Linked DNA regions of Homo sapiens: regions 1, 2 and 3 are each linked to region 4. The links come from fine-mapping of genetic effects on gene expression. A gene starts in region 4. Each other region holds a variant in brackets. All regions are shown on one strand. Distances are from middle to middle.

Region 1 (2,591 bases), 250 kb before region 4:
CAAGTAGGTATCCAGTGCTGGATGCATCTTGCTTTCCTTGGAGATCTCAACTATTACGCTCTGCAAAAGTCAGATCAGTTTCAAGACTGCTACAGACCTAAAACCCTGCCCCTTAATCTGCCTAGTTTCTTTTTAGAATCTTTGGCATTGCTTCTCTTTTTGACATAGATAAATAATTGTGCCTCCTTTCCCCATCACCCTGCTGGGACTAGGCAGGTCTTCCATGTTATTTGTTCTATATTTCATCCCAAAATAGGCAAATATCCTAACAGGCAAGGATGGGATGGAACATCCCTCTTCTAGGAATCCTTTGGAGGTAATGTCCCATTCTGACCTATCCCTAAAATTCTAATGGTGATTACCATCCAAAAGGGAAGGTATTGTTTGCAAAACTCAATTTATTTCTGGATGCTAGAATATAGTAAGCTCAGTCTTCAGTGACATGCTGCCCTCTAATCTCTGCAGCTTTGGGACAGATTGGGCAAGTAAGTCCCGAGCTGACGGATCTTCTGCTCTGGGCTATCCACTATGAAGAGTCACCAGGTGTACGGCTGGAAGCTTGCCGTAGCATCCTAGCCCTGAAACTTCAAGGGGACCGGGTCAGGGACACCTTCCTAGACGTGCTGCTCCTGGAGAACCACGATGCTGTTCTAAAGTAAGCACTAAACCTCTGGCTCCCACCATGACCTTATACTGCCAACTCTCACATCTTTGCTCATTGAATATGTCCCTGCCTTTCCAGGCTACCTAATGGCAGTAAAAGCACTGGTTCACCTGCACATTCACCACTCACCCAAGTAGGTAACTGAAAAACTGGCCTAAATTAGATTGAAAGTCAAGCTTATGTAGTTCATGCATCTTTTCTCCCCACCAGGATGGGTTTTGGCCGGGTGTGATGACTCACGCCTGTAATCCCAGCACTTTGGGAGGCTGAGGCAGGAGGATCACCTGAGGTCGGGAGTTTGAGACCAGCCTGACCAAAATGGAGAAACCCTGTCTCTACTAAAAATACAAAATTAGCCAGGCATGGTGGCACATGCCTGTAATCCCAGCTACTAGGGAGGCTGAGGCAGGAGAATCACTTGAACCTGGGAAGTGGAGGTTGCGGTGAGCCGAGATGGTGCCATTGCACTCCAGCCTGGGCAACAAGAGCAAAACTCCGTCTCAAAAAAAAAAAGGATGGGTTTTAAGTTATTCATATATTCAACTAACATTTATCAAATGCCTATTGGGACAACAAGTTTTAGAGTCAAAAAGACCAGGGTTTGAATTCCAGCTCTGGCATGCAATAGCTATGTGAGCCCGTGTAAGGTATTTAAACTCTGTGAGCCCATTTTTTTCATGTATCAAATGCAGGTGATAGTCTACATTATAGGGTTGTGGTGATAATTAATGAGATGACATGTTTAGCGCCTGTCATAAAGGTGTTCAGTAAATGGTACCTATTGG[C/T]ACCTTCAAATATATTGTCTTGGCCAGATGAGGTGGCTCACATCTGTAATCCCAACACTTTGGGAGGCTGAGGCAGATGGATCACCTGAGGTCAGGAGTTCTAGACCAGCCTGGCCAACATGGTGAAACCTGTCTCTACTAAAAATACAAAAATTAGACGGGCATGGCCGGGTGCAGTGGCTCACACCTGTAGCCCCAACACTTTGGGAGGCCAAGGCGGGTGGATCACCTGAGGTCAGGAGTTCTAGACCAGCCTGGCCAACATGGTGAAACCCCATCTCTACTAAAAATACAAAAACTAGCTGGGCATGATGGCACGCGCCTGTAGTCCCAGCAACTCAGGAGGCTGAGGCAGGAGAATCGCTTGAACCTGGGAGGTGGAGGTTGCAGTGAGCCGAGACGAGATCGTGCCATTGCACTCCAGCTCTGGGAAACAGAGCAAGACTCCATCTCGCAAAAACAAAAAGTAAACAAAAAACCCACAAATATATTGTCTCAAAAACTGCACATTATTCCTGTAAGCTAAGCATTATACCATTTTTGCATATAAGGCTCAGCAAAACTGCACAGTTAGGATTGGAACTTGGGATTCTTACCTGATTCCAAGTCCTATATTTTCTACCCCCATACTTTTTTAAAGGGCAGGGTAGAATAATCTAAGAAGCCCTTCTTATCTTTCAGAGAAATGTACCAGACAATGAAGATACTCAACTTAGGAAATGAAGGAAACCAAGAAATGCTTCAGGAGATCAAGAACAGGGTAAATAAGTGCAAGCTCTGTTCTCAAGAGAAAATTCAGGACTCTCAAGAGTTCCTCAGACCCTGTCCTCCTCAAACATGTACATACCCTTTTTCCCACCATAGAAGTACTTTCTAAAACCCCAGACACAGATGCCACATCATTTGAAGATGCAAAGCATCTGTGCAAGATTGGGTTACAAGGTCCTACTAGTAAAGACAAAAACAAAACAAAAATCCTATTAGTCCTATCAAGTAACCCTCATTGTTTCAGAAATACTATTTCCCTCCCTTCCTATTTTCTCCCCATCAACCCCAAACCCAAGTTGTTTATTTTTCCTTTTTTTCAAATAGGCATAGAGAAGGAATAAGGGACTAGAGCTGGCCCCCTAGATTTTCTTCTT
Region 2 (2,591 bases), 130 kb after region 4:
TAAACTTACAAATTGCCGAGCAGAATACCTATCATGTTTGTAAAACTCTCACTGTCTGTCAATTTGCCTAATTTTATTTCATTTTTTTGTTTTGTTTTAAAGGGGGTTTTCACTTACACTTTTTGGTATGATGAATTTTTTGTTAAATAAACAGATACAATAGAATTAAACTAAGGACCAATTAGTGCAAAAATGCATTAAATACAGCTCTCCAGGATTTTTAGGATATGCCTCATTTCTGAGCAATAAAATTAAAAGGAAAAATCACTATGATCCACATTCCTTTAAAAGAGAAGCTGAAGCAGCCATCTTATTAATAAGAAAACCCCATCCAGTTAGCAAACCACATTGCTCACGACACGAGAACACCATGCTCTGGGAAACTAATAACCTAATTATAACAGACATTTCAGGTTGGAACAGTACCACTTTTCCTTTACAATTCTATTCTTTAGTTGGGAAATGTTTTAAGGACCCCACCAAAGCAAATTAGGGAAAAGAAAGACTTTTACACATACATTCACAAACACATTCATACAGAAATACAGTAGGAATGGATTGTCTGCTAATTTTTGCATTCCAATTTTAAACTCCATGCCTTCACAAGGGCTTGCCATTTCTGATCAAAAGAGAGTGGGGGTGGTAATAGTTTATGACTGGTGTTTTCAATTAAAATTGTTCATGTTGGTTCCTATACAGTACATTTCAATATTAAGTGCAATTCTGCAAAATAATTGGGGAGTCGTTTTAATATTTACAAGAAACAAATCAGCAGAACAAGATTATATCAGATAGGCTGTGTACAGTAGCTGCGGCTTATAAAACATACCAGTAATTTGTACCTGGTGAGTATAAAGAGAACCAAGGATTCAGATGACTTTACAACCAAGGGAGTACACAGGGCAACAACAAATTAGAGGACCAAAAAATTCACATTTTCTACAAAAAAAAAAAATTACAGATCTCACAATGTCTTCAAAGACAAAGAAAAATTCAAAGTCCTTAAAAGGGTGGCAAAGAAGAAATCTGAAATGGAACTCTAAATATAAAAAGTTTTACTTCACAAGACCAATTTTCTTGGCTTCTGTTTCATATATCAATAATCTCCACATTTTGACTATAAAAACTTCTGCTTCTTCATCAAGTACCTAAAGAGGAAACAAAACAGCAACACATGTAAGAGAAGCAATCATCAACATCTGCCAAAAACAGTGGCCAGTATAAAAAAGTTTTTCATCCACTGACAATAAGCACTTATTACTTAAATGCTAGTTAAGATTTTAAGGTTGTTTTAGTGGCCGGGTGTGGTGGCTCACGCCTGTAATCCCAGCATTTTGGGAGGCCGAAGCGAGCGGATCACAAGGTCAGGAGATCAAGACCATCCTGACTAACATGGTGAAACCCCATCTCTACTAAAAATACAAAAAA[C/T]TAGCTGGGCATGGCAGCGTGCGCCTGTATTCCCAGCTGCTGGGGAGGCTGAGGCAGGAGAATGACGTGAACCCAGGAGGCGGAGCTTGCCAAGATCGCGCCACTGCACTCCAGCCTGAGCAACAGAGCAAGACTCCATCTCAAAAAAGAAAAACAAAAAAAACAAAAAAGTTTTAAGGTTGTTTTGAGGGGATACATGAGATTCTGTATTGTTATTACATAGTTGTATATTTAGTTCTTCTTAAATTACTACGTTCTTTATAATACGTATTTGTTTTCCTTAGGAAGTAGTTTTGCTTTCAGTAAAATGACTTAAAGAAAATTTGTCCAGTGTGAGAAATGTATTATTAATAAATAGTAAATGGACCGGGCACAGTGGCTCACACCTATAATCCCAGCACTTTGGGAGGCTGAGGCAGGTGGATCACCAGAGGTCAAGAGTTCAAGACCAGCCTGGCCAACATGACGAAACCCCATCTCTACTAAAAATACAAAAATTAGCTGGGCATGGTGGCCGGCACCTGTAATCCCAGCTACTCGGGAGGCTGAGGTAGGAGAATCGCTTGAACCTGGGAGGCGGAGGTTGCAGTGAGCCAAGATCATGCCACTGCACTCCAGCCTGGTCAACAAGAGCAAAACTCCGTCTCTAAATAAATAAATAAATAGTAAATGTAAATTAACAACGACAACAAAAAAAAATCATTCAAAATTCCATGGCTTACTAAACACAAAGAGTACCATATTTTTGTGATCCACCTTTTATTCTTTTATTTTACCTTTACAGATACTGCAATTATACATGTCTGACAAAACTACTTCCCAAGGAAACCATACGCTTTTCATAAAGAACACAGTAATTTAAGAAGAACTAAATAATATACAATTACATAATAACAATACAGAATTTCATTTATCTCCAAAAACACAACCTCACAAACTTTTTTTTTTTTTTTCTGGAGACAGGATCTCTCTTGTCACCCAGCCTGGAGTACAGTGGCATGATCATGGTGCACTACAGCCTTGACCTCCCAGGCTCAAGTGATACTCCCACATCAGCCTCACCAGTAGCTAGGACTACAGGTGTGCACCACTACTCCTGGCTACATTTTTGTGCTTTTTAGTAGAGACAGGGTCTCACTATGTTGCCCAGGCTGGTCTCAAAC
Region 3 (2,591 bases), 120 kb after region 4:
TCAGTATTTTTCAATACCTACTATAGCAATGAAGGTTCAAAACAGTAAAAGCTGCAGTGTATGAAAAGTAAACGACCAAATAACACTAAAGGTCCTAGACTCTCTACAGTGATACATTTTCTTTTGCTTCAGAAACGTTTGTAACTTAGGAAGAGGAACAGATAAGTGAATGATAAAATAAATGGTGGCAAAACCCAATAGTAAGTGGTAAAAGATGAAGCTGAAGGGCAGGGCATCAAAGAATTACTTGGGGGAGAGGGTTGTTAGACTAGAAAAGCTGCATCAGTCACTACTAAAGTCAGGGCCTAGGCAATGGGAAAACAAAAACCAGCTCTTCACACTAATGATTCCAAAGGAATCTACCTCATTAACATTTTCACATAACAACAGTTTGCCTTAATTTATGCACAGTGTCGCTGCCATGCTTCTTATATAGGAGGAAAGAAGAATTGTTATGAGATTAAATATTGCCGTCAAGGCTTGGTGCATGGCCACATTTTATCTTAGTAGCTCTCACGTCATTTGAATTCTTTGCAAGCATGGGTTTCCTTAGATTGCTTAAAATCACGGGCTGTCATATCTTCCTCATCTTGTTCTAGCCTTAAGTTCTGAATATGTGTTGGGATTCAATCAGGCTGGTGGGAAAAACATTAAAGATTGTTACAGAGACAGATACAATTCTTGGAAGGCCGAGAAGTTTGCATAGCTTCGGTGATAGATATGGTTGAAGGCAACCTGATCTTTACTTTTAAACAAATTAAAGTAGTAATAAAGGAAGGCAGAGTAGTTTACCTAGTTTGTTTAGTCATATGATCTTAAGACTAATCTTGGATGTACCACGGGGGGTTAAGTGCTTTTTACTTGGGAAGTCCACAATATCAATTACCCTCTAATGGTGTTGACTCAAGCCATCCTTAATCTTTTTGAATAAATGCAAGTCTCACTAGCTGACTGAGGCCTAGTTGCAACTGTTTTCAGAACTCTCCAGGGAGTCTGTAAGCAGTGGGACACCCTCAGCTGGACTGGCAAAACAGA[C/G]TATCTGTGTGTCAGTGTACTTTATTCATCTGTCGCAGGGTCAGGGTCTGTGGGCAGACCCCTGCAGCTGGTGCCCTGAGGCGCGCTGCCGCAAATGTTTGTCACTATTTTGTTAATTCTAAGTTCCTTCTTTAACCAAGAACCTGGACCCTCTCATTTAGAAAGTTGCCTCGACAGTATACTGAACAAAGTAAAACTTTGTTTTGGTACTTTTCTATCTACAGTAACAGACCAGTCTCTTCACCTGGGTACATTTACAAAACTGTAAATTGACAGGAAAAGATTAACTTTCATGTTTTTGGATTCTACAATGTGAAATGCTCACTAGTTTTTCCTTTATCAAAAAAGCTTATGCCTGTAATCTCAGCAGTTTAGGAGGCTGAGGCTGAAGGATCACTTGAGACCAGCCTAGACAACACACTTCATCTCCACACAAACACAAAAAATAGGAGGCATGGTGGGGTGCACCTGTAGTCCTAGCTACTCAGGTGGCTGGGACAAGAGGATCACTGAGCCCAGGAATTCGAGGCTGCAGTGAGAGCCACGATTGTGCCCCTGCAGCTTTACAGGGAATCCTTGTCTCTAAACAAATAAAAAATGTCGGCCAGGTGCAGTGGCTGACACTTGTAATCCCAGCACTTTGAGAGGTCAAGGCATCGTTTGAGCTCAGGTGTTCAAAGCCCACCAGGGAAACATGGTGAAACCCTTCCTCTACAAAAATTAGCTGGGTGTGTTGGTGTGCACCTGTGGTCCCAAGTACTTGGGAGGCTGAGGTGGGAGGATCACTTGAGCCCAGGAGGCAGAAGTTGCAGTGAGCCAAGATCTTGCCACTGCACTCCAGCGTGGGTGACAGAGGCAGACCCTATCTCAAACAAACAAACAGAAAGATTTCACGTGAATGCATGTAAAACTACTTGTCATTAGTGGTTATTTAATAGTGCAATGCTAGACCATGAATTAGAACCCCATATATACTCCTCTAGATAAACCACCTGCAGGGACTACTGACATAATTACAATGGGCAAAACAGACTAGGTGACCTCTAAAGCCCCTTCCACATATTACTACTTCTACTGAGAATCTTCCTATTTCCCATTTCCTCTCAGCTTATCACATTTGATAATTCACATAGTATTTTGTATTTATGTCTAATGATGTTCCTGAACTCGTGTAATTTTTTTTGCCACCATTAGATGATCAGCTAACAGAAATACATGTATTTTTTTGAGATGGAGTTTTGCTCTTGTTGCTCACGCTGGAGTGCAGTGGCGCAATCTCGGCTCTCTGCAACCTCCACCTCCTGGGTTCAAGATGCTGTCTCAAAAAAAAAAAAAAAAGTAGACAGACTCAGGAGTGTCATTTAATTCAAACAACATGGCTTGAAAAGAATTTTTATTTTTGTTTCTAGAAATTATCTTCTTTACCTGGGTATTTTAGACTGCCATTCTTTAATTTCGCCTTCATGACTCAAGTAATGAAATGCAAAGATTCTGTCAATTAAAAATGTAAGCATTCAAATGCAAATAAATTAACATAAATATTTCAGTATTTTACC
Region 4 (2,591 bases):
TACACAGGATATGAGACTCCCACTGGGCCATGCCCACAGCCACGATCCCCACCACACACACACAGAGAGAATATAAGTGCTCCTTGATCTGGAATCTAGAGTGCCACAGGGTCTCCAGAGGTCATTTGCCGCAAGCAGGGAAAACGAACACTCAGAAGACTTGTCTTGAGGAATCTTCTGATTCATCTAAAATGCTTAATGACATACATGTTGGTGCTTACCTGGGTGTTTTTTCCCTGAACTGTATTTCTCTAAAAATTAATGACTTATACCCTCCTCAGAGGTGCACAGACCATCTCCTCTGGCCCCCAGATCCTTGATAAATGAAGTCTTGGTGTACCAAGCCCCTTCCAGCCCCTCCTGCAGGATGACCGTGGGGCACCATTGCTACCGCTCCCGGGGTTCCCCATCTCCGTCTCTGTGCGACGGGAGGAACGCTTCCCATAGCAGACTGAGCAAAAACAGGGCTCAAAATGGTATAGACACACCATAGCTTCGTTTGAAAATATACATACATAAGGGGAGAAAGGATGGAAAGACCTCAAAATGGCTGCCATGGTGTTGCCACGGGCATGTGCTGGGGGGAGCAGGGGTACTGGTGATTGATTCATTATGGGTTGATCGATGGGGTATTTGACAAATGCTGGCTCTGGCAGCACATATACTAAAATTGGAACGATACAGAGATTAGCACAGCCCCTGCCCCCTTAGCTGGTATGGCATGCAAATTCATGAAGCATTCCATATTTACTTTAAAAATTATTTGGGAGGCTGAGGTGGAAGGATTGATTGAGCTTGGGAGGTACATGCTGCCCAGCTGACATGACACTGCTGCACTCAAGCCTGGGCAAGATCCTGTCTCAAAAAAAAAAAAAAAAGAAAGAAAGAAAAAGGAAAAGAAAAAAAGGAAAGGAAAGGAAGAGAGAAAAAAGAGCAAGCGAGAGAGAACGAGAGAGAAAGAAAAGAAAAAAAGATAAAGAAAAAGAGAGACCTCTTGCTCTCTCTCGAGGGACCTCTGCAGACCCTCTCCTCCCCAAAGGTGGGTCCTGTGGTCTACAAGATTTCCTGTACATTGCGAGCCCCCGCGCCCACCCAAAAAAAAAAAAAAAAAAAAAAAAAAAAATTGGTCGGGTACAGTGGCTCACGCCTGCAATCCCAGCACTCTGGGAGGTCGCTGCCGGCGGATCCCTTGAGCCCAGGAGTTCAAGACCAGCCTGGGCAACACAGTGAGACTGTCTCTAATATATATATATATGACAACGCCTCTATAATACGGCAATAGGAACTGTGGCATCAACGTAGGTATACAAGAGGCCCCGAGAGAGCGAGTCCCGGCCGCGCTCACCGCTGTAGTAGGGCAGCCACCGATACCGCCGCCCCTGGAACTCCGCTCCGTCGAACTCCGCGCACTGCTCGGCCCGGAAGTCCCGGGCGCCGTCGGGGCAGCTCTGCGGGGCGGAGGGGAAGTCGGGATCCAGGAGGGCGGAGTCCGAGGTCCGCCCACCTCCCGCCCCGCCCGAGCCCAGGGAGCCCAGGAGTCTCCCTTGCCTGCCCCATCGGAGCCGCCGGAGGTGGAGTCCGCCCCCCGGACCCCCGAACTCCTGTGCGTGCCCCTCCATGGTGCTCTAGGCTGTGGAGGGCAAGGCCAGTCCCCGGGAGCAGGGTGAGGAAGGGGCCCCCACGCAGCCCTGCTGTGGATTGGCGGGAGGACCCCAGGCTGGGCCAACCCAGCAGCCCGCGGCCAGGAGCGGGCATCCCAATGGGGAAATCGGCCAGGAGGGGCTGGGGAAGCTGGTGCCTTCGCCCGCGCCCCGTGAGCTTTACCTCCGTGCGACAAGAGCGGTGGCTCCGGGCGGGGCCCACGCAGCTGGAGCCTCCATCTCTCCTGCGGGACCAGAGCACCGGGAAGACCTGACCGAGACCCAACGTCCCTGCCCCCGTTCTGGGGCTCTCTGCAGGCCCCAACTTCTGCGGGACTCTCCAGTGGGAGCAGCAAGGTGAGAGGGTGTCCCCCGACCCCACCCCGTAAATCCCCCAGGTGGGAGTGAGCGACCCATGTTGGTACTCCAGAGAAGCGGGACTCAGAGCCCTACCCACCCTATAGTTTGGATTTAAGGCGGGACCACTCCACTGCATCTTAGGCAGATTCCCAGAGAAGACCCGAGGTGCATGAGATATAATACCCACCCGCTTGGCACAGCCATCCTGCGATCTAAGCAGGACATCAGTATAAGGCTCTTAGGATCATTCCTGGTCTCTCATTCCTCCTCACATAGGGTTCTCAGGAACAACCCCTATACAAACCGGGACAGAGGCACCTCACTACTCCTTCTGTGCCCCACCTTCTCCACTGACCCTGCCGGAGTGCAGCACACACAGCAAGCATTTAATAAATCGCTTGAAGTGGGGAACATCTGTACTCGGTAAAGAAACCACAGGAATTGGGAACTGCCGGTTGAAGATTATTTACCAGTTCCAGCAAAATTGACTGCACCTGCCATACTGCAGGCCGGTGCAGCATCAGGAGCTGGAGACCAGGGGCAACAGGCAGCACGCGTGCTCCAGCTCAGAGTGGAAGGCCCTGGGAAATG

Alleles and levels. Positions count from the first base shown, and alleles are read on the strand shown. Sizes are in standard deviations (SD) of each study's normalised expression. Not every link is listed here.
As copies of C replace T in region 2, the expression in esophagus muscle of the gene that starts at base 1,520 in region 4 goes up (small effect, 0.27 SD a copy in GTEx).

Evidence for each region. PIP is the estimated chance that this variant, and not a neighbour inherited with it, causes the effect.
Region 1: its variant is the best candidate, but not a certain one, in a credible set for the expression of PAPLN-AS1 in testis (GTEx, PIP 0.58).
Region 2: its variant is the best candidate, but not a certain one, in a credible set for the expression of PAPLN-AS1 in esophagus muscle (GTEx, PIP 0.55).
Region 3: its variant is the best candidate, but not a certain one, in a credible set for the expression of PAPLN-AS1 in esophagus muscle (GTEx, PIP 0.80).

Annotation. Positions count from the first base shown.
Region 1 is chr14:73,496,219-73,498,809 of GRCh38, reverse strand. HEATR4 (HEAT repeat containing 4) reads left to right here. Exons shown (of 18, transcript NM_001220484.1): 14 at 466-655; 15 at 2,131-2,209. It also overlaps a transcript of ACOT1 not described here. Among named protein-coding and RNA genes, the nearest start is that of RIOX1, 6.6 kb to the right of the region's middle. The variant C/T (reference allele first, on the strand shown) is at 1,450.
Region 2 is chr14:73,118,270-73,120,860 of GRCh38, reverse strand. RBM25 (RNA binding motif protein 25) reads right to left here. Exons shown (of 19, transcript NM_021239.3): 19 at 1-1,148. The coding sequence ends at 1,056. Among named protein-coding and RNA genes, the nearest start is that of PSEN1, 17 kb to the left of the region's middle. The variant C/T (reference allele first, on the strand shown) is at 1,429.
Region 3 is chr14:73,123,699-73,126,289 of GRCh38, reverse strand. RBM25 (RNA binding motif protein 25) reads right to left here. Exons shown (of 19, transcript NM_021239.3): 19 at 2,391-2,591. Among named protein-coding and RNA genes, the nearest start is that of PSEN1, 12 kb to the left of the region's middle. RefSeq lists an enhancer at 598-1,137. The variant C/G (reference allele first, on the strand shown) is at 1,036.
Region 4 is chr14:73,244,930-73,247,520 of GRCh38, reverse strand. It overlaps PAPLN-AS1 (PAPLN antisense RNA 1), which reads left to right and starts at 1,520. Exons shown (of 2, transcript NR_135248.1): 1 at 1,520-1,997; 2 at 2,277-2,591. PAPLN (papilin, proteoglycan like sulfated glycoprotein) reads right to left here. Exons shown (of 27, transcript NM_001365906.3): 4 at 1,825-1,885; 5 at 1,346-1,448. It also overlaps the pseudogene RNU6-419P. RefSeq lists enhancers at 1-260, 399-468 and a silencer at 1,416-1,685.